Linked DNA regions of Homo sapiens. The protein of the gene in region 1 interacts with the protein of each later gene in a pairwise test. Each region holds a gene or a part of one and is shown on either strand. Other genes may lie near its edges. The genes, in order: RBFOX1, RBM47, ATXN2 and UBL3.

Region 1 (9,105 bases):
TTTACTCTAAGACCAATTGGTTAGGAATCTCCACCCTCATGATCATGAATCATTGACATGATTCTAAGCCTGGCTACATGGAGATGAGTCCTAGTAAACAAAAAGACAAGCTGTATCATGATTTATGTCTCATGAACCTGGCTCTGACACAAAACTGACTAAGTTTTGAGTCCCACTCTAACCACTAGCCAGCTCTGTGAGGTTGGGCAAGACACTGAATTTCCTCCTTTCAAGCTTTGGTTTGCTCATCTATTTAAAAAGGAAATAATTTTTTATGGCTGCATAGTATTCCACGGTGTATGTGTGCCACATTTTCTTAATCCAGTCTATCATTGTTGGACATTTGGGTTGGTTCCAAGTCTTTGCTATTGTGAATAGTGCCGCATGGATGAAGCTGGAAACCATCATTCTCAGCAAACTATGGCAAGGAAAAAAAAACAAACACCGCATGTTTTCACTCACAGGTGGGAATTGAACAATGAGAACACTTGGACACAGCAAGGGGAACATCACACACCGGGGCCTGTTGTGGGATGGGGGGAGGGGGGAGGGTTAGCATTAGGAGATACACCTAATGTTAAATGACGAGTTAATGGGTGCAGCACACCAACATGGTACATGTATGCATACGTAACAAACCTGCACGTTGTGCACATGTACCCTAAAACTTAAAGTATAATAAAAAAATTAAAAAATAAAAAGGAAATCATAATGGTACTTACACTGTGAGGACTAAATGAGATGATACAATCAAAGAGCTTATATAGTAAATACCACATGCTTGTTGCTTTTGTAGCTGTTTTTGTTATCATCATGACCATTGCTTAAGGTGCTGTCTTTGCTACCATTAGTATTTTCTCCATCTTATTAAGGGGATGAAGGCAGGAGAGGAAAAGGAATGAGCCCAAGTAGAAGAGGAAAAACTATCATGTTTACTATTTCAAAGACACATTGAAACAGAGTGCAAAAGTTGCTGTCTTTTCACAAAAAAGAGACCTCATCTGTGGACACCAGATAGCTCATTCTCAGTATTAAATGCCTTGGTTAATATCAAAACCCTGACCTACACGATAGATGGTGAGTGAGTTCAAGCAATCAATAACTATATATTGAGTATCTGCCATGTGCCCAAGGACTGAGGGGGGAACAGAGAATATAAGGTGCAATCCATTCCCCTGTGGTCCTCAGACTGACTGTTTTAATTAGTTCATTAGTTGACTCCGTTTGTGAGAAAGCCTTCAGGTAAGTCTGAAGACTGAGAACTTGTGGGCAAAGTAGGTCTTATATAATATTTAAATTGTGCAAATCATGTTATTGAACCCAGAGTCATTTATGGATACATTTGAGTATTGTATCAACTCTTCTGTGACTGCTATTGAAAGGTATCCTTGGGAGGAGGAATAAAAGGATGCTTGGCTACTTGATTTTTTTTTTTTTTTCTGAGACCAAGTCTCACTCTTTTGCCCAGGCTGGAGTACAGTGGTGTGGTTGCAGCTTTCTGTAGCCTCAAGCTCCCAGGCTTAAGCAATCCCCCCACCTCAGCCTCCCAAGTAGCTGAGACTACAGGTGCACACCACTACGCCTGGCTAATATTTTAAATTTCTTGTAGAGATGGGGTTTCACAGTGTTTCCCAGGCTGGTCTCAAACTCCTAGGCTCAAGCAGTCTGCCCACTTCAGCCTCCCAGACTGATGGGATTACAGGTATGAGCAAGAGCCACCACCCTCTGGCCTTCTTAGATTTTTAGATCTTAGATTTTTTTAGCTTGCTTTTTTCATCCTTTTCCTATTCTGTTTAATATATCACTGATAATCTCTTAAAAATCCTAGAGTACTCTGGAGTAATCTACAAATCCCTGGAATTCACTGGATGTTTACACTGACCTTCTGGAAAAGTTATTAAACAAATATAAGATAATAATGGAGAAAATGGTCATTGAAACATCAGTGAAGGCAGAGTGAAGCCCAGAGCACTGGCAGTGGAAATCATTATGGTAATGGTGCATCTTGAAAAGCTAACCAGTCACTCTCCACTGCCTGTGGTAAAGCAAATACGCCTTACAAATCATTTCAGAGCCTGCCTTGGGCCTTCCCTAGCCCATATCTTTAGTTCCAGCTTCTACTCTCTTGGCTCTTTCACCATTGTCCAGCCCCTTAACTTCAACAGGACTCTATTTATATTGAACAGATTTGCTGTTCCTAGAAGGAGCTATGCTGTTTTGCTTCAGGCACTTTCATAAGCTGTATTCTCCTTCGGGAATATCCATCACCCAACTCTCTGTGGAATTCCTATTTATCTTCTCTATTTAGACACGATCTTCTCTAGAATGCTTTGCCTGACCTTCTGCCCTTCTGCCATATCTGGCTATAGGCTCCTGCTCCGTATTGGCCAAATGTTTCAAGACAGTTGCAATCACTCATTTATGTGTCTGCATATGCTATTGGACTGTACGCTTCTCGAGTGCAGAAATTGAGTCTAGTTTATATACTAAATGGTTTACATGGGGGACTAGCCTCAAGAAGGATGCATGTTTGATGACTGAAAGAACAAAGGACTACATAAATGGATGAGCAGGTTGACTTCTCATTTCATTCCAAAGTGGTTAGCCCATTTAGACAGCAATCTACTGCAGGAAAGAAGGAAGGTTCACCTATCATTTATTGAGCTTATTATGTGGCTGGTGCTGTGCATCAGGGAACAAATCTTTGATGTAAAGACCTTTTAGTTTAATAGAAGAGAACAACATTTACAGTAAGCTGAGACAAATGACAGGGTAAAGGTAAATGGAGGTGTTAGAGGAGTTCGCAAGAACACCTTATCTGTGCCTATGGGGGGCTGGGTAGGGAGTTGAGGGATTGGCAGGGAGAAAGTGATATTGAAATGGAGATCTAAAAACTAAACAGAAGCTATCCAGGAAAAGAGAGTATGTAAGGGTATTCCTGGTTGGAGGAACAACATATACAAAAGATTGGATACAACAAGAGAAAAGCCCTCCTGGGTCACAGAGTGAACTTAAAAAGAGCCAGGAGCTGGTAAACCACATGGACAACTTTAGACCTTATCCTGGGGAATAATGAAGAGCTATAGGAAGATCCTAAGTTTTAAAGTAAGATGATGAAATTTACACTTTAGAGAGCTCTCAGCCAAGCACAAGGCTACAAAGTCCTTGTTCTTTTTAAACCAGCTTTATGAAAGGTACCATTTTTGACATTTGCTTAGATCACAAATTGGAAAGTATTTTTCATGTCCAGTAGGAGGAGCCAAAGTCTCCAGGTTCTTTCTAACCATAGCAGGGCGATTCTTGGCCCTAGGTTGTCCTGGGAGCTGTCAACTTCAGCACCTCTCATTTATCTTCCAGTGGCTCAACATGGAGAAATGACAGGAAAAACTCTACTTGGAATGCGAAAGGTCATTGTGAGAAAGAAACTAATACTTTCCAAATGAATAGCATAATGGCATGCCATATTGATCTTTACTCTAATTTTGTTTTAAATTGTAATGGATGCCTCTCACACTCATATTCTTAAGCCATGTAGCAATACAGGTACCAGTGAGTCATGCCTGACACTCATCACTAATCTATCTAAGCCTATTTCTACTCTACAATAAATAAATCAGAGCAGACTCAAGCTGAACTTGATTTTCAGATAGATGAATATGTTTTATTTCCAATGGTAAATATATATATGTATTAAAAATAATCAAAGGGCCCAGCAATTACCCATTTTAATGTAACAACAGCTGATGTTACTGCCTTGAATGATTGCATTCATTTGTTCCTTTCTGGAATAAAAAATGAAGGAGAATAGACAAACAATTCCTGTTGGTGAATTTGCACAAAACAGTATATTCCAACAGAATTTCCCGTTAACTGCCATTTATTTCTTCTATCATTATTGATAATTTGCTTTTAAATTGAGAATACCTCTTTTACAACCCATCTCATCTCCCTGCATGGCTAGACAATTACATTTAAATTCGGCGGTTTTCCCATTGTGAACAGTTTCTGGGGGAAATGATTATGATGTTACCAACCCAGATTTATGGTTTCATTTTGCTATCACTGAAGGATGAGACTAGTATAAAGAAAAAAAAATTGCTTACATACAAATATATTATTATCAAAGAGAATCCTAAGGAAACATATGGTAAAAATCAACCCAAATTGCAAAATCGCTGGGACCAATGATAAAGATATCTTTCTGGATTTTGCAAACTTACTTTTTCAAATGATGATTAAATATTGCGTGCTTTAAAAAGTAATATAGTTATAGGCAGAAGTTCCCTTTCTTTTATTCTGAGGTTGAAAGAAACCGCAGCCCGATAGGATTGCAAGAGGAACCCTTAAGGAATCTGCTCCTTGATGGGCGCTAGGAAATACACGTACATCTAGTACAAAGGAATGCACATCACATGGCCCCCTGTTTTGGAAAGCTTACAGCATTTCTTATAAGAGGATCCATGGTATAAGTGCAAACACAGTCACATCACAGGATGGGAAAATGAACAGGCGCCTCAGATCAAGTGCTCAAGGCTGGAATCTGGCCTTGTCCAATGCCACCTGCCCTTCAGAAGGCAGGGTGGTGCCACATAAAATGAGGTAGACTGCCTGGGGAGTCCTGGTTCCTTGCCAGCTATGTGACCTTGAACAAATTACAACTCACTGAACCTCAGACTGACTTTATTGTACAACAAAACCCCCTGGAATATTTGTGGAAAAAAGAGGAAGGGAGAAAGGAAGGAAGGGAGGAAAGGAGGAAGGAAGAAAGGGAGGGAGGAAGGAAGGGAGGGAGGGAAAGGAAAAGGTAGGGGAAGAGCAGAGTTTCTCACTCCAGTCCAGAGTGGGACCCAGGAAGGGAGAAATATTGCTTTAATCTCTCTAAGCATCTGTGAAATGGATAAACCTCCAGTATCTACTTCCAGTTGTTGAAAAGACTCCATGTAAAGTGCTTAAAACAGCATCTGGTGGAAAGTAAATGCTTATTAAGTGCTAGTGTGTATTAAGGCGTCATGGGGCTTCTGGCTGTAAGACATCTGCTAGGAGGACAATCCCTAGACCCCTTCAGCGTCCATTGCGGGAGTAGGTGGCCAGGAAGGGGGCAGGACAGGAGAGGCCCAGCTGTGCGGGGTGGGGGCGTCCCAGGCCAGCCGCACCCACCCCAGCCCTGCATCCCATCCAGCCTGGAGAACTTTTTGAATCTTGGATAGGGCTCGATCTCTGCCTGGCCGGAAGATTTGAAGACTTGCCAGAAAACTTCCTCAGAGAAGAAATGGACTGGGGCAAGAAGCTGCCTCCACTTGGCGTCTCTAGTGGGGGATTTGTCTACTTTGATTGGGGTTGGGAGGAGGGCGCTGGTGCTCAATGAGTGAGCCCACCTGGGGACTACCAGGACGAGGACGGGCGCAGGTGAAAGTCCTGGGCTCATTGCCCCAGCATCCAACTTTCACCCTCTGTCCCCTTTAGGCCAGGAGACCAGGGTACCGGGTCGCGTGTCCGCCGCCGCCGCCCGCTGGAATCCAGGGCTGCACGCGTGACCGCGGCGGCGGCGGCGCTGGCGAGGGGAAGGGGGAGGGGGCGCTCCCTCGCGCACCAGATTATTTTTGGCTCCGCAGCCGGGGCTGCTCGCTGCTTGTCGCGCGCTCACACACACACAGACACACACGCACACACACACATGCACACATTTTCTCGCGCTCTCTCCGGCTCTCCTTTGTTTATTTTCTAATCTATATTTTTACTGGAAGATTTCCTCTTTATTCTCTCCCGCCCTCCTACAAGCGCTCTTGCTGGCCGTCTGGGTGCACACACCGCTCCCTCGATCACCCCAGCCCCCTTCCTGGTCTCCCGAGCGCGGGGTTTGAAGGTCACCTCCTTTCCAGTCCCCGTGCGAGCCGCGCTGCCGCCGCCTCCTCCAGCCAGAGTCGGTGGGACTGGCTGCGCTGCCCTGAAGTGGTTCTCCAAGCAGCGCGGAGGGTGGCGGACGGCGGACGGAGCCCAGGGGCCGCGTCGGGTGGGGAAACCCGAACTCGCGGAGGGGAATCCCTCCCCCTCCGCCCCAGCCCCCCAGCAGCACCCGCGGTGGGGCGGGGGCGCTCTGCCAGCCCCGGGAACAGCAGAGGCGGCGGCACTGGCTGGACCCACGCGCGCGCCTCCGGGGCTGAAGAAGGAAGGAGTGAGCCGAGCCGAGCACCCCACATCTGGAGGGGACAGCCAGCCGTGGGCCCCGCCCCGGCGTCCGGAGCAGGAGAACTCCGAGCTTCTTGCCCAGGCAGAGAGAGCAGGAGCGGACCGCGCGCCCGGGATTGAGAGTCCTTGCGCTCCAGACCCCCACCCAGTGGCCGCCAGGGTCCCCGCCTGTCCGGACCCTCGCCGCGCCCAGGCAGGCGCGCCAGGGCGGGGCTGACCTGCCCGCGAAGTTGCGGACAGTGCGTGAGAAACCAGCACCCCCTTCCGCCGCCTCCAGCTTATGGTGAGTGTGGCTGGGGGTGCAGAGAGCGCACGGGAATTCGGGGGTCTGGGGCCGAGAACGTGACCGCAGCCGGGCTCGCCGGGAGTTCTAGGTAAGTCCAGGCGGAGTCATTGCCTCTGCACCCACCCTGACCTGGTGGGTCAGGTCCAGAAGGTCTCATGGAGGGAAGCGCTAGGTCCCCGAGAACTGGCCTCCTCCTAGCGCCAGTCTGGGCGCTCTGGACGGGAACTTTTTCAGGGTGTGTGGAAAGATCTCGAGGCGTGTCCCCCCCTACCCCCAGGAGGCCGAGACCCTGAGCCCCCTTGTGCGTCGCTTCCAGAAGCACGTCCTTCCTTGCCCCAGAGCGCCCCTCCGAAGCATCCAGGCTACCTCGTCCGTCCTCCTGGGAGCGAGTCCTAGGTGCCAGGAGCAGCGGGAGCCTGCCTGCGCACTTTGATTAGTCTCCCTGGCCGGCTGCAAGCGTGCACTCAGCGCGCCCCCGGACCGCTGCCTCCGCCCGCAGGGTGTGCAGGAGGAGGCATCTTAGTGACCCGGGAGGGTGTTTAGGTGCCCCGAACCCCTTGTGGGAGGAGGGGAAGAGAAGGCTCACTTATGTGGAGAAAGCGCCGCTGTGTTTACTGGCACTGGAATCGATGCCCCGCGGTGCCACCTCGACCCCAGGGGAGGGGGCCAGCCGGGAAACCTGCGAATGGGAAACTCCTACTGTGCCCCTGGTTCCTGGGAGCCTTAGAGAACCTTCACCCCAGAGAAGGAAACACAGGGGTAGCAGATCTTAGCCCTGTGTTGTTGTGCAGGCCAGGGGGGGGCTTGTCAGCTCCAATCAACCAATTGTCCAGCTATGGAAGCGAGGGCGGGGCTAGTGGGGCGCCGCTCCCATCTCCCCACCGCCCAGGAGGCCACTTGGCTGTGAGCTCCTGGAGCCTCCCTGGCGCCAGCTGCGGGGACCAGGTGTCACGCGGAGCCCGGAAGCTGTCCACTCAGCAAGGGAGGGGAAGACCCCGATCTAACCTTGTCCTGGAGCCCCCAGCTCCATTCCTTGCTGCCAGGGAATGGTCAGGGGGCTGGGAGAGCTCATCGCTCCTGTGTGGGCCAGAGCTGGGGTGCACCTGCTGGCACTGGAACATCTGGGGTGCGGCTACTGAAGAGCTTGGAAATCCTGGTCAGGCAGTCCGGGCAATTGGCACCCCAAAGGCGGATCTTTTCAGTTGAACTTGAAAAGAAGTGGGGGAGTGTGGTGAAATAGCTTTGTTGAGTTGAAACATCATGTCTCCTAACTTGGGTTTTCCTTTATTAGAATAATGATTGTTTATTTTTATTTTTAAACTCCGTTGTGCAGAGAGGCCTGGCCTTGACAGCCCAAGTTTAGGACATGCCCCAGCCTGCCATCCCTTCCCTGCCCCCTGTCCTAGTTCATCTCCCCTCCATTTATCATTTTATCTTTGTTACAAAAGAGAGAAAAAAAAGATGAGAGGGCCTGGATTCTTTCAATTTTTAAGTGACCACAGAGGCCCCGGCTGGAGCTACTGGCAGATTTATTTTTAGCTAAGATCTTTTATGTTCAGAAGCAAAGGACCTGGGGCCTGTGAAGGGTAAAGGTGGTGCTGGCAGTGGCTGTGCTGGTAAAAAGTGGGGCTGACTCAAAACCTGTGTCCTCTTTGAGCTCGTCAGGGAGGCCCTCCGTTTGGAAGAATCCCCTGGGCTTTCCTTAAGTTAGCTTATGGTTGCCTCGGGTTAGGAAGAAAAGTCATCATTCCTCGCGGTAGTGGAAGTGACACCTTAGGGGTCCAGAGAGTGGAGCTTTATGGCTCAGAAGAGCACAGGGCTTCTGGATCCGTTATCTGCCAGCTGTGTGACCTTGGGCAAGTTGCTTTACCTCTCTGAGCTTCGGGTTGTCACCTGTAAAATCAGAGTTTCAGTCGTAGTTCTGTCCTCAGAGGGTTTGGGGGTAAATTACTTAAAGCACTAAACATTTAGAACAGTTTGGCACATGGTAAGTGCCTGAATTCTATGAGTTTTGTTTCTTTATTCTTTCAAGTAGATTCCTCTAATTTTTGAGCCTTGTAGCACCGAGTGGTACAGGAAAGGCAGGTGGCTTGCCTTATACACACACGTTTTCTTTTAAGTAAGGAACAGAAGCCTCAAGCTCTCCCATTCTGCTCTCTGCATGTTCCAAGGAGGATCACGGACAAGCTGCCCACCCACTGGCCAAGATATAGGTTGGTGGCATTTGACTTGCTGTCTTGACAAGCACCTGAAATTAAGTTTTTGCAGCAGTTGTACATTTCTTCTGACCCACTGAAAGGACTTGATCTCCTTGGCCCCCTGGGATGAAAGTATTACCTTAGCAAATCTGTTTTTTTTTTTTTAATTAGAACATCATTTATTTAATACATAGAATATTTTGAAAACACAAGAATCGAAGAATATTAGAAGTGGCTTTATCATTCCTCCTGGGATTCACACATTGCAATTAGTATGTTTAGATATAAAATTTTGTGGCCAGGTGCAGTGGCTCATGCCTGTAATCCCATCACTCTGGGAGGCTGAGGTGGGCGTATTGCTTGAGTCCAGGAGTTCAAGACCAGCCTGGACAACTTAGCAAAACCCTGTCTGTACTAAAAATACAAACAATTAGA
Region 2 (8,332 bases), on another chromosome or scaffold:
ACCGCGGCTTCGCCTTCGTGGAGTACGAGAGCCACCGCGCGGCTGCCATGGCTCGCCGCAAGCTCATGCCTGGCCGCATCCAGCTGTGGGGCCACCAGATCGCCGTGGACTGGGCCGAACCTGAGATCGACGTGGACGAGGACGTGATGGAGACCGTGAAGATCCTCTACGTGCGCAACCTCATGATCGAGACCACCGAGGACACCATCAAGAAGAGCTTCGGCCAGTTCAACCCCGGCTGCGTGGAGCGCGTCAAGAAGATCCGCGACTACGCCTTCGTGCACTTCACCAGCCGCGAGGATGCCGTGCATGCCATGAACAACCTCAACGGCACTGAGCTGGAGGGCTCGTGCCTGGAGGTCACGCTGGCCAAGCCCGTGGACAAGGAGCAGTACTCGCGCTACCAGAAGGCAGCCAGGGGCGGCGGCGCGGCTGAGGCAGCGCAGCAGCCCAGCTACGTGTACTCCTGCGACCCCTACACACTGGCCTACTACGGCTACCCCTACAACGCGCTCATTGGGCCCAACAGGGACTACTTTGTGAAAGGTTAGTGGGGGCTCTTCTCCTGGGTGGGGCCCCCAAGAACGTTGCCTCCTAGGCAGGGGGCACCAGGGATACCGTGGCTGGCATTTGCTGAGCTGGTAGGTGCTGAAGGCCCTCCCACCCCCGTTTTGGGTTTGCATTCTGGGTCTAATTCTTTCCTGGCACCGAAGGCCGTCACTTATGCAGCACTGATAGAAATACAGATCGTTCTGGGGTGAGCGGTAAAATCACAGGAATATGCAAGTGCTGGAATTCTTCCTTGCCGAGGTCCACCGGGTTAGGGGCTAGTCCACCATTCTCTTGGTGCTTACGTTAAAACCTGCTTGTGATATTAAATCTTAAGATGTTGGTGGAGTCCGTGATTTTTAATTTTGTTTTTTGTTATCACTGATTAGGATATAATGACACCCAGCATAACCTGGAAAATAAGATACATAGGTTCTGGGTCCTGTTCTCTGATTAACTGGGTCTGTGACTTTAGTTAGTCACTTTAATCTCCCCTGGCCTGTTTTCTCAAGCATGAAATGAGGAAGGTGGACCAGCAAATCCCCTTCCAAAGCTAACTTTAAAAAAAATTATTTAATAGTATATATATATGTATTATATATATATATATGTATTTTATATATATATATGTATTTTATATATATATATATGTATTTTATATATATATATATATATATTTTTTTTTTTTTTTTTTGAGACAGGGTCTCACCATGCTCCCCAGGCTGGTCTTGAACCCCTGGGCTCAAGCCATCCTCTCGCCTCAGCCTCCCAAAGTGCTGGGATTACAGGCATAAGACACCACACCTGGCCACAGTTTTTTTTTTGGCGGGGGGGAGGGGGTGGTGGGTAGTCTATGAATGTTTTTCTTTACTGAAATTGCAGATACAATCCTAGAAACTCACCCTGCAAGTTTGCCTCTTGTACTAAGAAGACATGCTTAGGATGCAAATCTAGGCTGAAATAGAATGTTGGAAGCATCTTTACCAGCCTATTAAAGAGCAAAGGTGTAGCCACCTGCAATTAAGACTGGGGCAGTTAAATGCCGAGAACCGAGGGCTGAGGTCTGCCTCCAGCACCGTCACTGTTGGTTGCTGATCATCTTTTGTGTTGTTATTACAAGCAGGCAGCATAAGAGGCCGAGGGCGAGGTGCAGCTGGCAACAGAGCCCCAGGGCCTAGGGGTTCCTACCTCGGGGGATATTCTGCTGGTCGTGGTATATATAGCCGATATCATGAAGGGAAAGGAAAGCAGCAAGAAAAAGGATATGAACTGGTGCCGAATTTGGAAATCCCTACCGTCAACCCAGTTGCCATTAAACCTGGTACAGGTCAGTATGAAGCAGATTGAGAATGCTCCCATTCAGCATAAACCCCAGCCCTTCTGTTTGAAGTGAATCCAAGCGTTTTTCAGGCTCTCACATCTGCACAGGGGTTCCTCTTCTCCTAGGCAGCTAGAGACAAGGCAAAAATAAAGTGACCCCCTGGACCTCCTTATCTAGAACTTCAGGGGATGGTGTAGCTTTGACTATGTTCAAATCAAACTTGCCTGAGTAAGGTTTTTTTTTGTTTGTTTGTTTGTTTGTTTTTTTTTTTTTTTGAGACAGAGTCTCGCTCTGTCGCCCAGGCTGGAGTGCAGTGGCATGATCTTGGCTCACTGCAAGCTCTGCCTCCTGGGTGCACACCATTCTCCTATCTCAGCCTCCAGAATAGCTGGGACTACAGGTGCCCACCACCATGCCCGGCTAATTTTTTTTTTTTTTTTTTTTGTATTTTTAGTAGAGATGGGGTTTCACCGTGTTAGCCAGGATGGTCTCGATCTCCTGACCTTATGATCCACCCGTCTCGGCCTCCCAAAGTGCTGGGATTAGAGGAGTGAGCCACTGCGCCTGGCCATGCAGTAAGGTTTTCAAAGGGCTGTCACCCATTGTTAGGTTTTGTCTCAGTCTGTGGCTAAGTAAGGAGAGTTGTAGGGGGAAGAAAGGAAGAACATGAGGCTCTCTGTATCTTCTATCAGGTAAAACCTGTCTTTTCCTTACTCAGGCCTATTTCTGCCCCGACCATCTGAAGTCGGAGGGTAGAGCTTATTGCCCCATTCTGAGAGTTGTTTGGAAGGGCAGAAAATTCCCCTTCAGGAGTAAGCAGCACCTTTTGTCCCTTGTCATGGTCTGAGCAAATAAGAATGCTTGAGGACAAGGCAGTGGTGAAAGTTTTGTTGTTGTTTGAGATGGAGTCTTGCTGTGTCACCCGGGCTGGAGTGCAGTGGCATGATCTCGGCACACTGCAACCTCCACCTCCCGGGTTAAGCGATTCTCCTGCCTCAACCTCCCGAGTAGCTGGAACTACAGGCGCGCACCACCATGCCTGGCTAATTTTTGTATATTTAGTAGAGATGGGGTTTCACCACATTGCCCAGGCTGTTCTCGAACTCCTGACCTCAAGTGAGCCACCCGCCTGAGCCTCCCAAAGTGCTGGGATTACAGGCATGAGCCACTGCACCTGGCCTTTGCTGAAAATTTTTGCAGCTAATTCCCTGGTTTCTCATTTCCAGCACTCATTTCCTCCTCTAGTTGGATCAGTAGATTGGGAGTAGGGATGCTCAAGTATTTCAAGCCAGGGACCCTGAACTTAGCCTTCACCTCCAGGCCCTACAAACCTGTTTATTAATGTCATTAGTGCCCATGACCATCTAATGTGAGGCCGGTCTTCTGATCCGAACCTGCAAAAAACATTAACTCCATTGTGTGAGTCTATCACAAACTCACGTAGCACCCTGCAGAAGCATCCAAACACATGGAAAGCTCAGTCCGTGGGTAATTGGCACGACCCTCCTCCAGACCCCTCCTGGCTTCAGCAGGAGGAAGTTGAAGAACTGTTTGGAGCCCAGCTACTCTGATTTTCTTCTGGTTGAGATTGTACACTTCTCTCCCTAGCTAAAATAGAGTCAAGGAATCTGTGCATTTGGGACATAGGTACACATTGGCCTCATAGAGTTAAAAAGCATTTCCCCAATTGAACTTTCTTTTGATGATTCTAGTAATGATTTTTTTTTTTTTTTTTTTTTTTTTGCCTGTGTAAAAATTCTGCAATTTCTGCAGTTAAGTGACTCCTTAGACTAGATTGCCTTTTAAATGTCATTGGCACTGTGGGCAAAGTAAAACTGATCCCACAGCTCTGTAACTTAATAAAATAGAGCCTGGATATGGGAGTCGTCGCTTCTACTTGTTGAGAAGGGAACTCCCTTTGGCAAGTTACGGTAGCTTAAGGTTTAACAAGAGAAAAGAACTGTTAAATAATCTTTAACTATGTAAAGTTGTGTCCTGGAGCCTGAGGTAGAAATTCCTGTGGGCTGATAGCCAGAACAATTCATTTACTTCATACAACCCCTTGTAGCTTAAACTCACAACCCTCTCTGGGCCCCATCGATTGGCGTCTATTTCTGATCATCCAGAAAATGAGAACATTGTATTTTAGGAGAGGCACCAGGGTGGTGGTGAAGTATCTGGGCACAAGACCAGTGGAAGATATGGTTGGAAAGGCAGGTAAAAGATTTGATTAAGGTTTTAGGTATATTTTATCGAATGGCTGTACCATTGTTTAGCTTACAATCATTTGTCTCTTTACCTTTGATTGAGTCTGTCCTATTTAGAATAAATGTACCTACAGTTGGAGAAAACCAGAAATAGAAAGATTCTTTGTGTACACATTTCATATTTTTGTTTGTCCTTTCAACACACACACACACACACACACACACACACACACACACCCCCGCCCCACACACACACACTCACACAAAAGGGCTGATATCTTTTCCTTTTGATCTCTTCTTACTGTACCTTGACATTCAATAGCTGCTGTTTGAATCTCTGGTTGAAATCATAATTTTGGACTTTACTTGCAGAAATTCTTTGAATTGGGAGGTCCCACTAAAAGCCAATCACTCCACATCTTCACTACTTTGCGTGGGCATGAGGAAACTGGGGAATGTGCTATTTTTTTTTACCATGTGTTTTTCCTTGAATCGGTAATGTTGAAATCTGAAATACAGGGTGGGGAGGATGTACACAGGTCTGAGTTCTCAGAATGAAACCCTCAACAGCACCTGTTTCTTAAATAGTGGTGAAAGTGAAAAAAAGGCAGTGCGGCTGGTAATGAGTGAGGTGAGTAGGAAGGAACAGGCAGGCCCAACTCTCACAGGCAGTAGGCTTCAAGCCTCTGATCTCACTTCTTCGTCTAAGCCTGTTTTCCCATAGTCAGAGGCCCTTTCTTGCTCAGTAGGACATCAAGAATAACATTCAAACTGTGATTTTTCTGTAGAAATAGTAGAAAATATTGGTGCAAAAGCCTTACTCTAGGGGTCTCTTCCACAACAGGCAGGGGGAGTTACCTGCCACCACCCATCCCTTCCTCTAGGGAGCAGGCATCTGGGTACATGGCTTGTACTGAGAGAACAATAGTGAGCATGGAGAGGCCCAGGACCTCTAAACGTGGTTTTAAAAAATATCTTAGGCTGGGCGCGGTGGCTCACACCTGTAATCCCAGCACTTTGGGAGGCCAAGGCAGTTGGATCGCTTGAGCTCAGGAGTTCAAGACCAGCCTGGGCAACGTGGCGAAACCCTGTCTCTACAACAGCAAAAACAAAAAGCTGGGCAAGGTGGCCTGTACCTGTAGTCCCAGCTACTCAGGAGGCTGAGGTGGGAGGATCTCTTGAGGCCAAGAGATTGAGGCTGCAGTGAGCCTTGATCGCACCACTGCATTCCAGCCTGGGCCACAGAGTGAGACCCTGTCTCAAAAAAAAGAAAAGTTTTTAAAAAAATAAAAATAAAAAATATCTTAGAGCAAGTGCTGGACCCCACTCAGCGACTGAAAGTGATTGACCTGTTTTTCCTTCTTGCTTCTCTTGCAGTAGCCATCCCTGCCATTGGGGCTCAGTATTCCATGTTTCCAGCAGCTCCAGCCCCTAAAATGATTGAAGATGGCAAAATCCACACAGTGGAGCACATGATCAGCCCCATTGCTGTGCAGCCAGACCCAGCCAGTGCTGCTGCCGCCGCAGCCGCGGCCGCAGCCGCCGCAGCCGCTGTCATTCCCACTGTGTCGACGCCACCACCTTTCCAGGTAGAGTTCTTATTGCAGGCATTGTCATTTGTGTGTGAAGCCTCTCTTTAACATGGATTCATTTAGTATTCAGCACTGAGAATTTACTGTGTGCCTGGCTCTCTGTTACAGCTATGGTTGGGTGACACAAAGCATTTTGAATTTGAAGCATGACAGAAAAAAAAATTTTTAATTAATTGTACTACCCTAATAATATCATTGTATTAAGGGTGGTAATCAATATGCAAAAATTATGTGTAATTTTTCACAGTGTCATAATATTGTGCATATATTTTTTTAAAATAGCACTGGATAATTTTTAGCTCATATTGTTAAAGAGCTGACACACAAAGTCCAGGGAGTGATTTCACATTTTCACATTTCAAACTGCAGCTCAATGAAGATTTTTTAAAAAAATGTTAACCCCCGTGTGTGTGTGTGTGTGTGTGTGTGTGTGTGTGTGTGTGTAAAGAGAGAGAGAGAGAGAAAGAACATCTGTATAGATACGTAAAATTTTGTGCTGGGTACAGTGGCTCATGCCTGTAATCCCAGCACATAGGGAGGCCAAGATGGGAGGATCACTTGAGGCCAGGAGTTCAGGACCAGCCTGGGCAACATGGTGAGACACTGTCTCTACAATTTTTTTTTTTTAAATTAGCCTGGCATGGTGGCATATGCCTGTAGTCCCAGCTACTGGGGAGGCTGAGGCAGGAGGACCACTTGACCAGCCTTGAGGTCAAGGCTGCAGTGATCTGTGATTGCACTACTGCACTCCAGCCTGGGCAACAGAGTGAGACCCTGTCTCAAAAATAAATTTACAAAATATGCCCATAATCCTCTCTTCCAACCATATCTCCCACTGTTCCCCTATCTCTTCCCAAACTCATCTTACCATGTTGGCCTCCTTCCCCACCTTTTTCATAGTGTATCCTGGTTTCTTTATTCTCATCTCTTCCATAGAATCTTTCCCATCCACCTCCTAGATAAATTTTCTCTCTCTTTTTTTTTTTTTTTTAGACGGAGTCTCGCTCTGTCGCCCAGGCTGGAGCGCAGTGGCGCCATCTCGGCTCACTGCAAGCTCCGCCTCCCAGGTTCACGCCATTCTCCTGCCTCAGCCTCCCGAGTAGCTGGGACTACAGGCGCACGCCACCATGCCCGGCTAATTTTTTGTATTTTTAGTAGAGACGGGGTTTCACCGTGTCAGCCAGGATAGTCTCAATCTCCTGACCTCGTGATCCGCCCACCTTGGCCTCCCAAAGTGCTGGGATTACAGGCGTGAGCCACCGCGCCCGGCCATGAAATTTTCTCTCTTGTACTCCTGATTACTACATCATTACTTGGCCTATGGCTGCCAGTGTGTTCTATCTCCCAAGGAAAATGAAGCTCCTACAGACCAAAGACTGTGTCCTGTTTCTTTGTATCTTCACCTTATAGGACATAGGGAGGACATCCATTTAACAGAAGAAAATCTTGTTAAAGCTGTTTTCTGTGAGGCAGTGAATCATGAATACCGATCACAAGTACTCAGGCCCAGGATCCCTTATCCAATTGAAAAAGAATTATCCAGGCCACTTTTTTTGATTTTTGATTTTTGATTTTTTTGAGACAGTCTCACTCTGTCACCCAGGCTGGAGTGCATGGCTCACTGCAACCTCAACCTCCCTGGTTCAAGCAATCCTCCCACCTCAGCCTCCCAAGTAGTTGGGACCACAAACACGCACCACCATGCCCGGCTAACTTTTTTATTTGTAGGGACAAAGTCTTGCTATGTTGCCCAAGCTGGTATTGAACTCCTGGGCTCAAGCGATCCTCCCACCTCAAGCTCCCCAAGTGCTGGGATTACAGGCATGAGCCGTTGCCTACATTTTTTAAAAAACAGAGATTCTTAGACTCTAATCCCTGAAGATTCCAATTCGGTCAAACTGGGCTGGAGTCCTAGAATTGATATTTTGCACAGCTCCTCAATGATTCTGAAACAGAGCCAGGCCTGTGACCCTCCACAGTAGGATGCTGTTTACTTGCTTTTGCCCACTCTGAACACTAGTCTTGACTGCATTATTCAGAAAGGGCAGACTAATTGAAGCTTATTTATCTTTCAGTATGTCATTAAGTATTCTTTAACTTGGGATCTCTGAAAGACAAAAAGAGGAATTGGTTGTAAATGACACTGTAGAATAACAACTAAGTATAGTTATAATACTTGTGGACTGACGGTAAATATTTACTATAGCGTAGCAGCAGTACTTAGTGGAATTCTGATAATAATTTCTAATTCTCCTTTAGTAAGAAATTCATGAACACTTGTCTTTCATGTGCACTGTGAGTTCTGGTCAGGTCCAAATTCCAGGCACCATAATCATGTCCTGACTATTTCTGTCTCCTATCAGTCCGCACTGGCTGTTGCCATCAGGGTTTTTTTTTTGTTTGTTTTTGTCTTTTTTTGTTTGTTTGTTTGTTTGTTTGTTTGTTTGTTTTTTGCGACGGTGTCTCGCTCTGTCGCCCAGGCTGGAGTGTAGTGGCGTGATCTCGGCTTACTGCAACCTCCGCCTCCCAGGTTCAGGCGATTCTCCGGCCTCAGCCTCCTGAGTAGCTAGGACTACAGGCACGTGCCACCATGCCTGGCTAATTTTTTGTATTTTTTTAGTGGAGACGGGGTTTCACCTGTTAGCCAGGATGGTCTTGATCTC
Region 3 (5,934 bases), on another chromosome or scaffold:
AGTGGCTCACGCCTGTAATCCCACCACTTTGGGAGGCCGAGGCGGGTGGATCACGAGGTCAGGAGATTGAGACCATCCTGGCGAACACTGTGAAACTCCGTCTCTAATAAAAATACAAAAAAATTAGCCGGGCGTGGTGGTGGGCGCCTGTAGTCCCAGCTTCTCGGGAGGCTGAGGAAGGAGAATGGCGTGAACCCGGGAGGCGGAGCTTGCAGTGAGCAGAGATCGCGCCACTGCACTCCAGCTTGGACAACAGCGAGACTCTGTCTCAAAAAAATAAAAAATTAAAAAAAATCACATTTAAGATACATGTTGATAATAAGGTGATTGGATAAGCTCTGGAAACTTGCAGTAATGAAAAATCAAATTTAACATAAAGTTCATAAGGCAAATTCCTATTTGCTTGGGACTTTTTAATTTCTAAGGTTTATGTGATGAGGTTATTTTCCTATGAGCTTCTTGAATTATGTTTGCTAATGGAGGCAGTTAAAGATGTCTTTGATATCTATCAGTTCCCTGGGGCAGTAGTCTTTTTTGACTTTAGTATGTATGCTCAGAAGTTTCTAACTGCCAGACTGAGAATCAGGCTTCTGTACCCTAGAAAGGAGTTGTCCAGATGGGAGGCACCTCCAGCCTTGCTCTTACCACCCTGTACATTCTCCTGTACTTTCCAGTGACCCTCATCATAGGCCCAAGTGTGCAAAGCTTAGCTTTGTGGGTATCCCTTGGCTGCTTTTCATTAAAGAAGTTTTCCTCTCAATTCTTTCCTGTCGCTTTGCAGCACCATCAGCACCAGGCCGCCCAGGCTCTCCATCTGGCCAGTCCACAGCAGCAGTCAGCCATTTACCACGCGGGGCTTGCGCCAACTCCACCCTCCATGACACCTGCCTCCAACACGCAGTCGCCACAGAATAGTTTCCCAGCAGCACAACAGACTGTCTTTACGATCCATCCTTCTCACGTTCAGCCGGCGTATACCAACCCACCCCACATGGCCCACGTACCTCAGGTAATACCAGCTTTAGCCAACTTTCTGTGAAGGCCAAGTAGAATGTGAAGGTTATCAGTAAGCAGCTAGAGGCTCTCCCAGCTAGGAAACCCTGTGTGTCATGCCATTTGCCTGTCTCCCTTTCCCTCTCAAATACACGTGATCTGGCCCTAAGGGAATGTTTGTGTGGTTTTGTCATGGGATCAGTGAAGGTGCTGATTGGTCAGTCCTTTAGTTTTCCAACTGAGACCTTAAAAATATCTTTGACTCTGGAATGCAACCCAGTCCTTCTTTCCTTTCTGTGTCTGCTTTGCTATGTCTATATAGCCTCACTACTATATATATGTGTACATATATATTCCCCTACACACTTACCTTGGAAGCCAGGCAGGGATGATGGCCTTCACAGAGTCTCAGCTCTCCGAAGTGACTACCGGGGCCTGTCAACTTGATTGTTACTCACATGAGTTCCAGACACATCTCTCCAATTGTTTTCCCTGGTTATCCATATATCTGCTTTGACCATAAGTTGTACTCTTGAGAGGGCTTGGCCTTGGACATTGGTGCAGTGTAACTAGAAGCTGGAAGCACCCAGGTGGTCCCATTTTTCTTTAAGAGCAGCCCTGGAAGCACTTTGGAGCTCACCTCCAGTGTAAGCTGCTACAGGTGAAAGGTGTGCTTGCCATCTCAGTGGTTGCTGTCTGCATCAGCTGCTGACAAAGGTCCCTGCACTCCAGGGCCCAGGGGATTGTCTTAATGAGGAGAAGGAGCTGCACTGAAGTTGGGCTCTAACGCTGGCCTTGAGGCCCTCCCTGGGGCTGTTACGGGTGAATTGGCTGTATTAGATGTCTCTGCTACTTTCATAACAGAACTCTCTGAGGCGGGTCTAAGTGAGACCTGCCACAATGAATTCCATTTCCTGTTAAATAGTGCGCCAGTGAGGCTCTGGCAAGGTGTGGGCTAGAGATGCGACTCAGTTGGATCTATCTCTCAGAAGGCTACCTTGTAAGTAGAGTTCCACAGCTCTGGGAAGTTTGGGCGTCCTCACCCTGCAAAGTTTAGGTTCTGTGGTGTAGCGCACTGCAGTTGATTTGCTTTTTGATAGTGGGGAGGGAAGCCGGTTTGGTCCGTGTGGGCCAGCGTGGTTTGGTGGAGTCAGCTTCATAAGAGCTGGGGTCCTGTAGGTGTCTACCAGAGGCTGGTGGCTAAGTAGGCATGTGAACTTACATGTAAGTCAGGGATCCCTAAAACCTCACTCTGTTTTTGTGCTGAAAGGGCAAAAAGGTTAACACAGGGAAGCTCAAATTTGCCATGTGCCCGTTTGAATATGTGAGAGTAAAAACGGCATTTCATCCAAGGCTTATCGTAGTCTAGAACAGTGCACAGTGTGGGAAAAAGGAAACAAGGGCTCTTCCTGGCCCTGCCAACCCCCTGCAGAGCTGGAATCCAGCTGTTTGGGCTGACTAAAATCACCTTTCCAACTTGACAGTGAGTGAGACCAGGTTGAACTTGGTACAGAGACGCTGGGCTGGCCCAGATGACTTCAGGTTACTCCTTTCCATCTCACTGGAGCCATTAAAAACTCCAACTCCTCCTCCTCCTCCTGCTCCATCAGCATATCTCTGAGAGAGTCACGGGGGCCTAAGAGTCTCTTTTCACTGCCTGGTGAGCAGACCAGAAGCAGAGGGAGAGAGGCAAATGAACAGAGGTCCAAGTAATTCACATACTTGACTGTGACAGTCTCTGCTTATTAATGTAATCTGTTTTCCTATTTGAAAGGGATGTTATCTGCAAAACTACCTCAGGCCCCACATGGCAGCCTGATTCTGAAGCATCATTGAATCTTGTATGATATTAAGTTGAGAAAGCTGCCCTTGGATCCAGTGTCTAATCTTTGTGAAGATCTTACCCCATACATAGAATACAATGATCAGAAATGTCAAGGGTTAGGACAGCACAGCCCTGACTTCTACCCAGGCTCACTTGTTGCCTGCTCCCTGACCCTTGCAGGATCTGCCCAAAGGTGAAGCGCGTCTTCAGGTCAATAGATAATCTACTAGAGATTGTCCCCAGAGAACAGAACTGGGCCCTGAGGCCCACCGTTGCCCTTTCCTGAGAGTCCCAGCCCAGTGAAAGGAACACAGTTGACATGTTGTTGAAGCCGGAGATGTTGCCTGTATGCGTAAAAGAGCTCTCTGTTTCAGGCTCATGTACAGTCAGGAATGGTTCCTTCTCATCCAACTGCCCATGCGCCAATGATGCTAATGACGACACAGCCACCCGGCGGTCCCCAGGCCGCCCTCGCTCAAAGTGCACTACAGCCCATTCCAGTCTCGACAACAGCGCATTTCCCCTATATGACGCACCCTTCAGGTGAGGCGTGTGTGTGCAGGGGCCGCCGGGGCACCCCAAAGCATTCTGCTCGCACAGGTGGAATGGCAGGCAGGGCCAGTGCTTCAAGCCCCGCATTTGAGAACTAGCAAGACCCGTCCAGGAGTGTGCACAGGAGGGACTGTGACGATCAGTTCAGCATCAGGGCCTGAGGCTTCCGGGAGCCGAGTCTGTGTGTGTTCTGATGGTATACAGGATTTGGCTTGATGAGAAGCAGCAGCAGCAGCAACAGCAGCCTGATGCATGCCTAGGACTCAGTTGGCCTTCCTTGTTATGACAGGCTGGACAGGGCAGTGTTTTCCTTCCTGAGTCCCAAAAGTCTGACATGTGGGGGGTTATTACCATGGCAGAGTTTGATTGTAGCTCTGGAGAAGATACTGCTGAGAAAGCGCTGTGGATGGACTGGCTTTGAGTGTAGCGTTAGCCCCAGCCCCTGAACAGGGGAGAGCGCCCTGTGATTGTGCTCTACTACTTGATGGCTGCCATGGCGATACTTCACAGTCTGACCTGTTATTCTGAAAGCAATACTGGTGCTTGGCTAATATTTGGGGAGGGGGTTTGTTAAGGCCTTTTTTTCTACCCCATGAACAAGTCTTCTGGGAGTTTTATCTGAAGTGGTTTTACGTCTGACTGGTTTGTTTCTACCCACCCACCCAACCCTCCCCACTTTGGTGCAGATGGGAGGGGGAAAAGCGAATTCAATTTTGAGTTTTGTTCAGCTAGCACGAGGATAGTTTACAATCATGTGCTGCAGAGACACTAGGCTGATGTGTGGTGTTGCCAGTTTTCTGTTTCAATGTTCGCTTTTCTTTTTACAGTACAAGCCCACCACCAACAGCAGTTGTAAGGCTGCCCTGGAGGAACCGAAAGGCCAAATTCCCTCCTCCCTTCTACTGCTTCTACCAACTGGAAGCACAGAAAACTAGAATTTCATTTATTTTGTTTTTAAAATATATATGTTGATTTCTTGTAACATCCAATAGGAATGCTAACAGTTCACTTGCAGTGGAAGATACTTGGACCGAGTAGAGGCATTTAGGAACTTGGGGGCTATTCCATAATTCCATATGCTGTTTCAGAGTCCCGCAGGTACCCCAGCTCTGCTTGCCGAAACTGGAAGTTATTTATTTTTTAATAACCCTTGAAAGTCATGAACACATCAGCTAGCAAAAGAAGTAACAAGAGTGATTCTTGCTGCTATTACTGCTAAAAAAAAAAAAAAAAAAAAATCAAGACTTGGAACGCCCTTTTACTAAACTTGACAAAGTTTCAGTAAATTCTTACCGTCAAACTGACGGATTATTATTTATAAATCAAGTTTGATGAGGTGATCACTGTCTACAGTGGTTCAACTTTTAAGTTAAGGGAAAAACTTTTACTTTGTAGATAATATAAAATAAAAACTTAAAAAAAATTTAAAAAATAAAAAAAGTTTTAAAAACTGATCAAGTTAGTGTGTGTCTGTATAAGCTACTTCTTTGTAGGATACTTAATATCAAAGCAGGTGTGCTAAGGGTGCATTTTGAATATCCCGGAAGGTAGCTGTGAAATGATTTTTCTTCTTCACCCTTAGTTCTGGTTCAAGGTATCTCTAGAAAAAGACAAGACTGAGCTATTCTCTTTGGTGGATTAGAGATCTGCTTCAGGAGGAGGAAGGTTGGCCAGAGTTGGGCAGCACTGAAATTCCACATCCTCGGGCTGACACCGATTCTGTAAGCTTCCTTTTTAATATCTCCTGAACCAAAATGAGTGTCATTAGCTGGAAGTTCCCAATTCGGGCATTTTTCTACTTTACCAGTAGGGGGCAGGAGACACTCAGAAAAAAATTGCAATAAAGAAATCCAGAGGGCATGAAGGCTGAAAAGATACAAAGATGTACAAAGCTGCTTATTGACATGGATGGACTCATAAGCATTTGTTAGTATTCCCAGATTGCAACGGGGAGGACAAAGGGAAGAGCGAGTATTTGGGCAGGGCAAGGATTTTGTAGAGACACCATGGTCTTAATAGAGCCTTTAAATATTATGACAGCAAATCAAGATTCTGAAAACTTTTTAATTCACATATAGCAATTTGTACATTATAGCAAAATTTGCATTATTCAAGAATAAGTTACTTGTACAGTACATAAAACAATACATAAAAATTTGCCAAATACCTTCTGCCTATAATGATACAAGATGAATCCACTTTATGTTATCACAATGTGCTGTATATTCTAACCAAACACAGGATGTCAGATGTGTCCTTGTTAATATACTCGCAAGTTCCTCTAGCTTGTGGGAGATGTTAGAGCTAACACATTTGCAGTAAGGGACTTAGTCCTGAATAGAAAGCATGAAGGAATCTCAGGCAACCCTCAGGGAAGAGTCCAAGGCCTTGACTTTAGGTTAAGAAACTGTTATGTAAAAATAGTGTTCTCTGGCCCAAGATTTTAATGATTGCTATTCCTTTTTCCTACGGTCCAGAAATGATCAAAGGCAGAAGATTTATACCAGATAAAGCCATATGGATTGCTGGTCTAAAATTCAAGGCAGGTTAGTTGACTTAATTCT
Region 4 (8,332 bases), on another chromosome or scaffold:
CTCCCAAGTAACTGGGATTACAGGTGCCCACCACCACACCTGGCTAATTTTTTTTTTTTTTTTTTTTTTTTTTTGTGGAGACAGGGTTTCACCATGTTGGCCAGGCTGGTCTCAAACTCCTGACCTCAGATGATCCACCCATCTTGGCCTCCCAAAGTGCTGGGATTACAGGCGTGAGCCACTGCGCCCAGCCTGCTGATGATTAAATTTTAAAACGCCAGATGTTTCTAGAGGAGCAAACCTCATATACAGATTTTATAACAAAAATTAAATGATTCTAAATGGCTTATTTTGACCTTGGTTTAAAGGAATTTTGCTCTTGTTTAATTTCCCATTGAATGCAAAGGAAACACAGTGTTCTGTCTCTGGGGGTGGCCACATAACAGCTTTACAGTCTCCTTCCTGAGTCCTAAAACTCGTGCGTTGTCCTTTTAGTTTTCGCTTCTCTTCTGGTGTGCACACATGAAATAGCCTCCTGCCTGGTTAAGTACGGCTGGACAAGCTTTCCTCCATACTGCTCTTGAAGTTGCCGGGAGCGGTCTCTAGACAGAGCTGGGAAATGCTATTTCCCTTGTTTGATGAGTGATCTGTGGGTTCATCGCCTCGAGCAAAGATTTGCTCTCTCGAAAGCCTCCATTTTATATCATCAAGCACAGTGCAAAATAGGTTAACCTTAAGTACCGTCTATTCTCTCACAGACGTTGGAATGAAATAGATGTGTTATTAAAACAGTGCCGCTACTTCCTTTAGGTCCAGTGAAGAAAAGCTGGAATGTGCGTGGCATCAGTCACAGATTGAGATGATTTGGGAAATACTGTTTCCAAGTCAGAGAGAGGGTTTGGAGGCTGATGTTAGGATCAGAGGACTGGGAAGTAGGAGCAGGGTTTTATTAATATCTGCAATTATAAAATATAACAGTTTATCTGTTTGAGACTGGATGTTAAGGCCTTGATTCTGTGGTGCTTTGAGATCCTTTGATTAAAGGTGATATGCAAGGGCAAAGCAATATTATGTAATAAATATATAATGCCCTGATGATGCTATTTCAGAGTGGGTACTAACGTACAGCACAGGTTTGATTGTTCTGAGTATTTTTTTATGTCTTGTTTTCTACTGTTCAACTGGTTAGAGGTTAAGATTTTCTCTTTGTGAAAGTCTTTTAAACGTTCGTTTATTACTTAACTTTGCATTTTTGCTTAAGAAGTCTATCATTTGCTATGTGCCTAGAATTCTCAACTTTTTGAAATATAACATGACAAATACTGGTTAGAAGTTGTCGATTAAATGCTTCATGATTATTAAACTCTTAATACCATGAATTGACAATTGATTTTAGTTTACATTCATGACAACAATTTACCGCTCCAAACCTTGAAGAGCTCCTCTCACCACTCCCACAGCAAAGCTAATGACATATATCCCTTGCAGCATAACTCTAAATTGATCAGGATATGTACTGTTAAATACATTTTTGCTAGATGCAGTAAAATGTTAAGCTTTCTCCTAGTTGACAGTATGTGCTGTCAACTGTGCTGAAACAAATGTTACACTTTTTTACTTTTTGGTGGTGGTGTCATTTCTATTGAAGTCAATCTTTTATATGTTAATGGTGCTTGTCAGTTGTATAGGAAAATCCTGTTGGGGAGATGGGATGGAGTGGTGAAGTTAACCCCTATCATGTTTCCAATAGAGATAATTTATTCTCGAGCTACAATAATTGCTAAATCAATTGATGTTTTTGGTAAAGTCTTTTTATGGCCGTGATTATGACTCACTTTAAAATAGATTTTTTAGCTTTGGTTTTTGTTTTGTAGGTAGAACTCCCATTTAAAATTTATTTTTGAACATCCAGTAAATTTTTGTGTTTAGCATAAGGAGTCTCATTTTTAATGATCCAAATGTCAATTTTTTGGATGAGGGAGTGGCACCCGTAGTGAATGGATTTGCTGTACCCTTTAAAACATAATTTGTAGTTGGTACTTTTACTACATTCTGCAATATATATGTCCTATAAATATTACAAGTGTATTTACTTGAAATGTTGGTTTTTCTTTGCTAAGAGTGATTGAGTTTGAACTAGATTTAATAACATCTTAGTGTAGTAACTTATTTGTGAAAAAATCTGAAAATATCTCAACAGAATATCATTATAATATATTGTATTTAAATGATGTATTTATTTATTTATGTTGCAGCCAAGATCATAGTTCATGATGCGGCTATATTCATTGTTTATAGTTGCAGTGTGACTTATGTTAACCACTGTAGGTTTTTTGCAAGAAAATATTTACTGCCTGTGTTAGTAATAAGGCCTAAGACTGGGCAAGCAATGGTAATTTTGTTTTCTGGATTGGTAAAGTTATCAAGAAATACATTCTTGTTTTTATAAGAGTATTGTATACAACATTTAGGCTACTATTTAGAGCTTTGGACTAAAATTATACTTTATCTATTACATTGAAAACTTTAAGAGAGAAATTGACAGTGTGAGAATAATGGCAAAGCAATTTTGTGATTCAAAACATTTTAGTTGATAAAACGGTCAAAGAAAAGCCCCGTATCTTTAACAACTGTAATGTAAAAATTGTAGCAGATCAATTTGTAATAGGAGTTGAATCAGATAATGACAATTCAAGTTTTTTCCAGTATATTTTATGTGCTTAATGAATATTTTTATTGTAACTTTTGTTATATCACTTCCATTCATGTAAGAATTATTGGAGCCCTCTTGTGGACAGGAAATTACTAAAATACATTTCCTTTCAAAGTGAACTTTTATCACTTTTCCAAGTTAAAGTAAAATGACATATGTTGAATATACCAGGAGAAAATGCCATGAAAGGAAAAGGTCCAGAAAATAGAAAAGTATACTGAGATTTAATGCCCAGGGACTTTTTCCTCTTTAGTTACAGCTCCTTTTTATTTTTCTTTCTATTCCTGATGATTCTTATTTCAGGTTTAAGTTGGAGGGTTTTATAAAGCCAAAAGGTAGATAAGTACTGTTTACATATATGTGTGACTTGAATAGCTTAATAAATAATATATTAAGAATTGAATGTTTCTCTGAATTTTTACTTGAATGTCTCCTATTTGGTATTTTGAATTAGACATTTTTATTAAGAAAACAGATGACATTGTTTCCCACAGCTTTGAATTCCTTCTTTCTAGCTCTGAATCCTACCCCAGCTTGTGTCTAAAATGGTCTTTAGTTCATTTTAGGCCACAGTGATCTTTCCTTCTTGTAAACCATTTTTCTTTAGTGCTTTTGACATTCCTCTTACACAGGTATCAAATTTCTATGGATATAGTATCACTTTTATTTCACCTCTGATATTTTTTAGACATTCAGAAATTGTTGAGTGACTTTCTTGACTCACAAACTATTACTGTCTTCGTTACTTACAGAAAAAAATAAATATTGTTCCGTAGTAATAGTGGTGTTAAATATGAAGTCTATAATGTCTGCTTCTGTTATCACTTGGAATATGAAAAATATATATTTATAGTATTAAAACTTGAAGTTATTTTAAATTAGTGGATAAAATACTGATGGTGCTAATAGTTTTCACAATATAGAACATTAAATATGTTTTAGGAGACTGAAGCATATACTTAGTAAATGTGCTCTTTGATTTTCTAAGTCATCTTATTCTGGGAGGGAAAAATGAAGAGTGACTGTAGAATTCATGGTAACCTGGAAACCTTGGGTAATAAGTCATTCCGAACCAGTAAATTTTCTGAATACTTGGAGGTTGAGTGTTAAGATAGCCCAATCTAACAATGTTGGATTACCATTGCATTTGCTTAAATGAAATATACTATGCATAATTTAACTTATTTTTGATGACTTAGAGCTATGATTTGAATAATATTGCTTGCATTCAATCAGTGTTTATTGGGTACCTGTCTGTGTAATATGGTAGTAGTATTAACAGGCATAAGCTACAACTATAATACCCTCGGCACCTAATATAGATTGTGAAGCTTTATGCCCCTTCACTAGATCAGTAATTTACAAAATGAGGTGAAGCAAGTCAATTTTGAGAAGTAAATATGAGAACTTCTGTTTGTTTATTTTGTCCCCCAAAAGGGAAAAGAATTGAGCTTTTCTATTCATACTATGTGAATTGGCTGTGAGGTTCTCCTAGGTCCACCTGCATTCAGGTGGTCACTGAGAGTGTGGTTTGCTGAGGGAAGATGTGTGAATTCTAGAATGTAGATGCCAGCAACAGCACCATGAGTTTCTCAGAGTTTTTCCAGTTTTTCTGTTATATAGTCCCTTTAAAAATACTTTTTAAAAGAAGAATCTATGATACTTCTTATTGAGATGGGGAACAGAGGTTTGCTGTCAAAGCATTTAAGAGTTGTAGAACTCAAAGATTAATCACACATTTTTATTACAAAAGATGAGTATTCTATATGCTGTTCTTATCCGTGATGACAAGAGGCTACCAAAAATAAAAATCTAGCGGATGTGTTTGGGAAAAAATCCCCAAGTTGTCACTTCAAGGCAAAATCGACATTTTAAACAGTAAGTGAGAAAGTACCTGCTTTTCAAAAGAAACATGTTATGGAGAACATTTTGAAAGCATGTTGAAGTATTTACAGTCTGTTGAAAATCTTCCTTACAATGAATTTTAATTGACTTTGGACCATTTATTGGAAAGCCAAACATTTTAATTTGTAAACATTCTTATTGCAGTCAGGAAAAAGAAAATTTTAATAACATTGACATCAGGTAGCTGACTTTGAATAAAAATGTTTGCGTATTTGGTGATAGAATGAAAAAGTAATATGATTTAGTAAGTTAGTAAGTGACATGTTCTTCTATATAGATCTCATCTTTGTAAGATAAGTTTTTCAGGTATGACTTATGACAGCTCTTAAAACCAAGTGCAAAATACATTGAACTTCACAAAAGAAGAAACTAAGATTTAAAAAAATGGAGATATATTTAATAATAATGCTCACCTAATATGTTAATAGTAATAGCATTTTTAGTGATTGAAAGATTAAAACAAGTTAATATTTAAAATAGTTGATAGTTAAAATAGTAAAGTAAAAACAAAATTTTAATCTTTTAATTTCTGTTTTTAGTATATGTTTTATACTATGTGTATGTTTATAAATGAAAACACATATACTATAGGTATGTGCCTCAAGTATTTTATATTTGGGATCTTCAGTCAAAAAAATGTAGGAGCCACTGCACTAGATGACTAAAGATTTCTGAGCATTTTAACTTCTTGTGTTTGATAGTTAGAAGTTTTCTGTCTCCTGCCTTGTTGAGCAGCTGTTTTTTCCTGTGATCAGTGTGCCTACTTATTCCTAACCATTTACAGTTGCTGGTTTTAATTTGCTATGGGTGTGGAAACCATATTTCCAAAGTTTATTAAAAATAATATGTGTTTAAAATGAGCAAATGGTGTCTGAGTAGGATTTTAGGAGTTACCTCACAGTAAAGTGAGTATCTTTTGTTTCATGGACTTGATCATATCTGTTTTGGTTGCTTAGAATTCTCTTTTTAGGAGGGCTAATTTTCTGGCTGTTAGTTATGTTTTGCAGAGATGCAGTTTCTTGATAGTGAAGAACTGCTTAGGTGATAAAAAAATTACACATAACTTTACTTTGAGCTCGTAGAGGAGAGAGAACTAATATTTGTTGTGTACTTTCTAGTACCAGGCAGATGCTTGGCATTTTACATTATAGCATTTAATTTAATCCTTACAGTCACCCTGGATAAATATGGTTGGTATATAGATAAAGAAACTCTTAATACCCACCAGGTGAAGACCACCAGGAATGCATCTGTGGTGAAACAAGTTAGGTTGACTGTTTTGCAGCTAGGAAGAGCGTATGCCAGATCCTGCCAAGTGTCAGTAAAAGAGAATGGGAGGGCTGGGCACGGTGGCTCACACCTGTAATCCCAACATTTTGGGAGGCCGAGGTGGGTGGATCACTTGAGGTCAGGAGTTCGAGACCACCCTGACCAACATGGTGAAACCCCCATCTCTACTAAAAATACAAAAATTAGCTGGGCATTGTGGCAGGCGTCTGTAATCGCAGCTACTCCGGAGGCTGAGGCAGGAGAATCACTTGAACCCAGGAGGTGGAGGTTGCAGTGAGCAGAGGTTGCAGTGAGCTGAGATTGCGCCACTGCACTCCAGCCTGGGCGACAGAGTAAGACTCTGTCTCTAAAAAAAAAAAAAAAAAAAAAAAAGAAAGAGAATGGGAGGAGTTTTCAGTAGGGTTTGGGCTGTGCTGGAAGCAGGGACTCCTGGACTGAATGCTATCGTACATCAACTGGAGGTGGGTTAGTAATTGGGTCTTTCAGCAGTCTTTGTTTAGGAGACAGGATAAATGAAGGGGATTTGGAAAGTCATTGGTGAGAAAACATAATCACTTACAGAATGGGAGATTGTTGGTCATTTTGGAGCTGCAGTGTGGCCATAGGAAAAACTTTTTACCTGTTGGTCTTCTATCTTTCAGATATCACAGTCTGATTATCAACCGAGCTCATTTTTACTTTCTCACAGCCTAGGTTCAGAGAGGGTAAGGAACTTGTTTGAGATCACATAGCGAGGAAGAAGTTGAGCTAGAATAGGAGTTTGGGTCTGGTGGCAATAGTGATAAACATCTACACCCCTCCCCACAACGGTAACTGAGCAAACATTACTGAATCCCTCAGGCACATTATCCTAAGAATGCCTTAGATTCCTTCCCAATACCTTGCTCCAGGGAGTCCCTACTGATTGGTCTGAGCTAGCATGGTAGAAATGAAACCTACTTCATATATCTTTGTAATAAACTATGTAACATCTGGATTGGAATGATTTTAATTAAGGTTGGTTGTCTTACTAATTGGTAAAATTAAAGGGAGTTTCCTTTAAACTTGTTGGAACTTTGAGTCTTCTTATGTATATATTTGTTACACAGTGGATTTTTCTTAAAAAGTACTACTTTGAATGCTTTATATATATATGTAACAAATAGATTGACTTGTAAAGGATTTAGTGATTTCGGGGCATTTTGTTTTTGTCTCCATACTTTTAACTGCATATATATATGTAGAGAGAGAGAGAGAGAGAGAGAGATTCTCTATTGGTTGGTCAAATCTAGTAGCATTTTTGGTCTTAAGTAAATATATATTTGGGTAATTTTCTGACTAGATTTTGAGAAGAAAATGTTCTTTCTGCTGAAGAAAATTGTTGAAGTTTGACATTAACATTTTTGTTTATGTACTTAAGATGGCAATTTATTGTGTCTAGACAAAATGTTCTTATGATATATGTTTTTCTTTACTTTCATATAAAATTAGTGTTTTTCTTTGCCTTAGAAATAGTCTTGCTTTTGTATCCTGCTATTCTCATTGTCATGTTAAATCAAGTTTAGCCTAAAGCTGCCTCCTTACATATTTAAAGCTCAGCCTATATTATGAACATCTATCTATGCAAATAAGTATAGAACCGTATTATAATTTTGAACCGATTATGATAGATGTATATAAATTATTTAGCGAATTCCATATTCATGAGCATTTAGAAGCTATTACAAACAATGACATAATGGATATTCTTAAACATATCTCTGTGCCTTGTCTGATTATTCCCTTAGGACAAAACTCTTAGTAATGTAGTTGCTCTGTCAAAAAATATGTGTTAATTTTGGGATGGGTGGGAAAGAGAAGGATATATATTTCCTAATTTTAAAACATCCTTGAATTTCTGGATAAACCTAGCTTTTAATTTTACATTACTCAAATGGTATATGCTAGATAATACTTCATTGAGTTTTTTTTTGTTCATGAAAACAATTGGCTAGCAATTTTAATTTCTTGTAAAGTATTTGACAGATTTAGGTATCAAGGTTATGCTGACCTCATAAGATGAGTTGGGAAATGCTTTTTAATACTCTGGAAGAATTTGTGAAGATTGATTTTATTCCATCCACAAATGTTTGAAAGAATTCACTGGTGAAGCCCTCTGGAGTTTTCTTGTGAAGATTATTGATTGTATTTCGTCAGTACATAAAAAGCTATTCATATTTTCTATTTCTTTGTCAATTTTGACAAGTTTTGCTTTTCAAGAGATTTGTCCATTTTGTCTGAATTTTCCAGTTCAGCTTAAGGTTTTTGTGTGTGTGTGTGTATCCTTTTATAATTGTTTTGGTATTTGTAGTATCTATGATCTCTCCTTTTCAAAATCTGCTTATTGTAATTTGGGTCTCTTTGTACGCAGTCTTTTCAGAGTCCATTTTCAGATAAATGTTGTTTTTAACTTTTTACTGATTTCTGCCTTTACCTTTATTTCTTCTATTTAAAAAAATGATAATT

Evidence for each region.
Region 2: the proteins of RBFOX1 (region 1) and RBM47 interact in binary tests that used the Homo sapiens proteins (3 or more experiments, as listed by UniProt).
Region 3: the proteins of RBFOX1 (region 1) and ATXN2 interact in binary tests that used the Homo sapiens proteins (3 or more experiments, as listed by UniProt).
Region 4: the proteins of RBFOX1 (region 1) and UBL3 interact in binary tests that used the Homo sapiens proteins (3 or more experiments, as listed by UniProt).

The regions. Positions count from the first base shown.
Region 1 is NC_000016.10:6,013,433-6,022,537, forward strand, and holds the start of RBFOX1 (RNA binding protein fox-1 homolog 1), read left to right. Parts: upstream 1-5,591; 5' UTR 5,592-6,466; coding exon of another isoform or gene 6,467-6,469; 5' UTR 6,470-6,560; intron 6,561-9,105. UniProt on the Homo sapiens protein: RNA-binding protein that regulates alternative splicing events by binding to 5'-UGCAUGU-3' elements. Regulates alternative splicing of tissue-specific exons and of differentially spliced exons during erythropoiesis.
Region 2 is NC_000004.12:40,429,985-40,438,316, reverse strand, and holds part of RBM47 (RNA-binding protein 47), read left to right. Parts: coding exon 1-546; intron 547-1,669; coding exon 1,670-1,876; intron 1,877-5,454; coding exon 5,455-5,666; intron 5,667-8,332. UniProt on the Homo sapiens protein: Single-stranded RNA-binding protein that functions in a variety of RNA processes, including alternative splicing, RNA stabilization, and RNA editing. Functions as an enzyme-substrate adapter for the cytidine deaminase APOBEC1.
Region 3 is NC_000012.12:111,451,104-111,457,037, reverse strand, and holds the end of ATXN2 (ataxin-2), read left to right. Parts: intron 1-781; coding exon 782-1,009; intron 1,010-1,918; coding exon of another isoform or gene 1,919-1,993; intron 1,994-3,192; coding exon 3,193-3,361; intron 3,362-4,197; coding exon 4,198-4,226; 3' UTR 4,227-4,824; downstream 4,825-5,934. UniProt on the Homo sapiens protein: Involved in EGFR trafficking, acting as negative regulator of endocytic EGFR internalization at the plasma membrane.
Region 4 is NC_000013.11:29,840,023-29,848,354, reverse strand, and holds part of UBL3 (ubiquitin-like protein 3), read left to right. Parts: intron 1-8,332.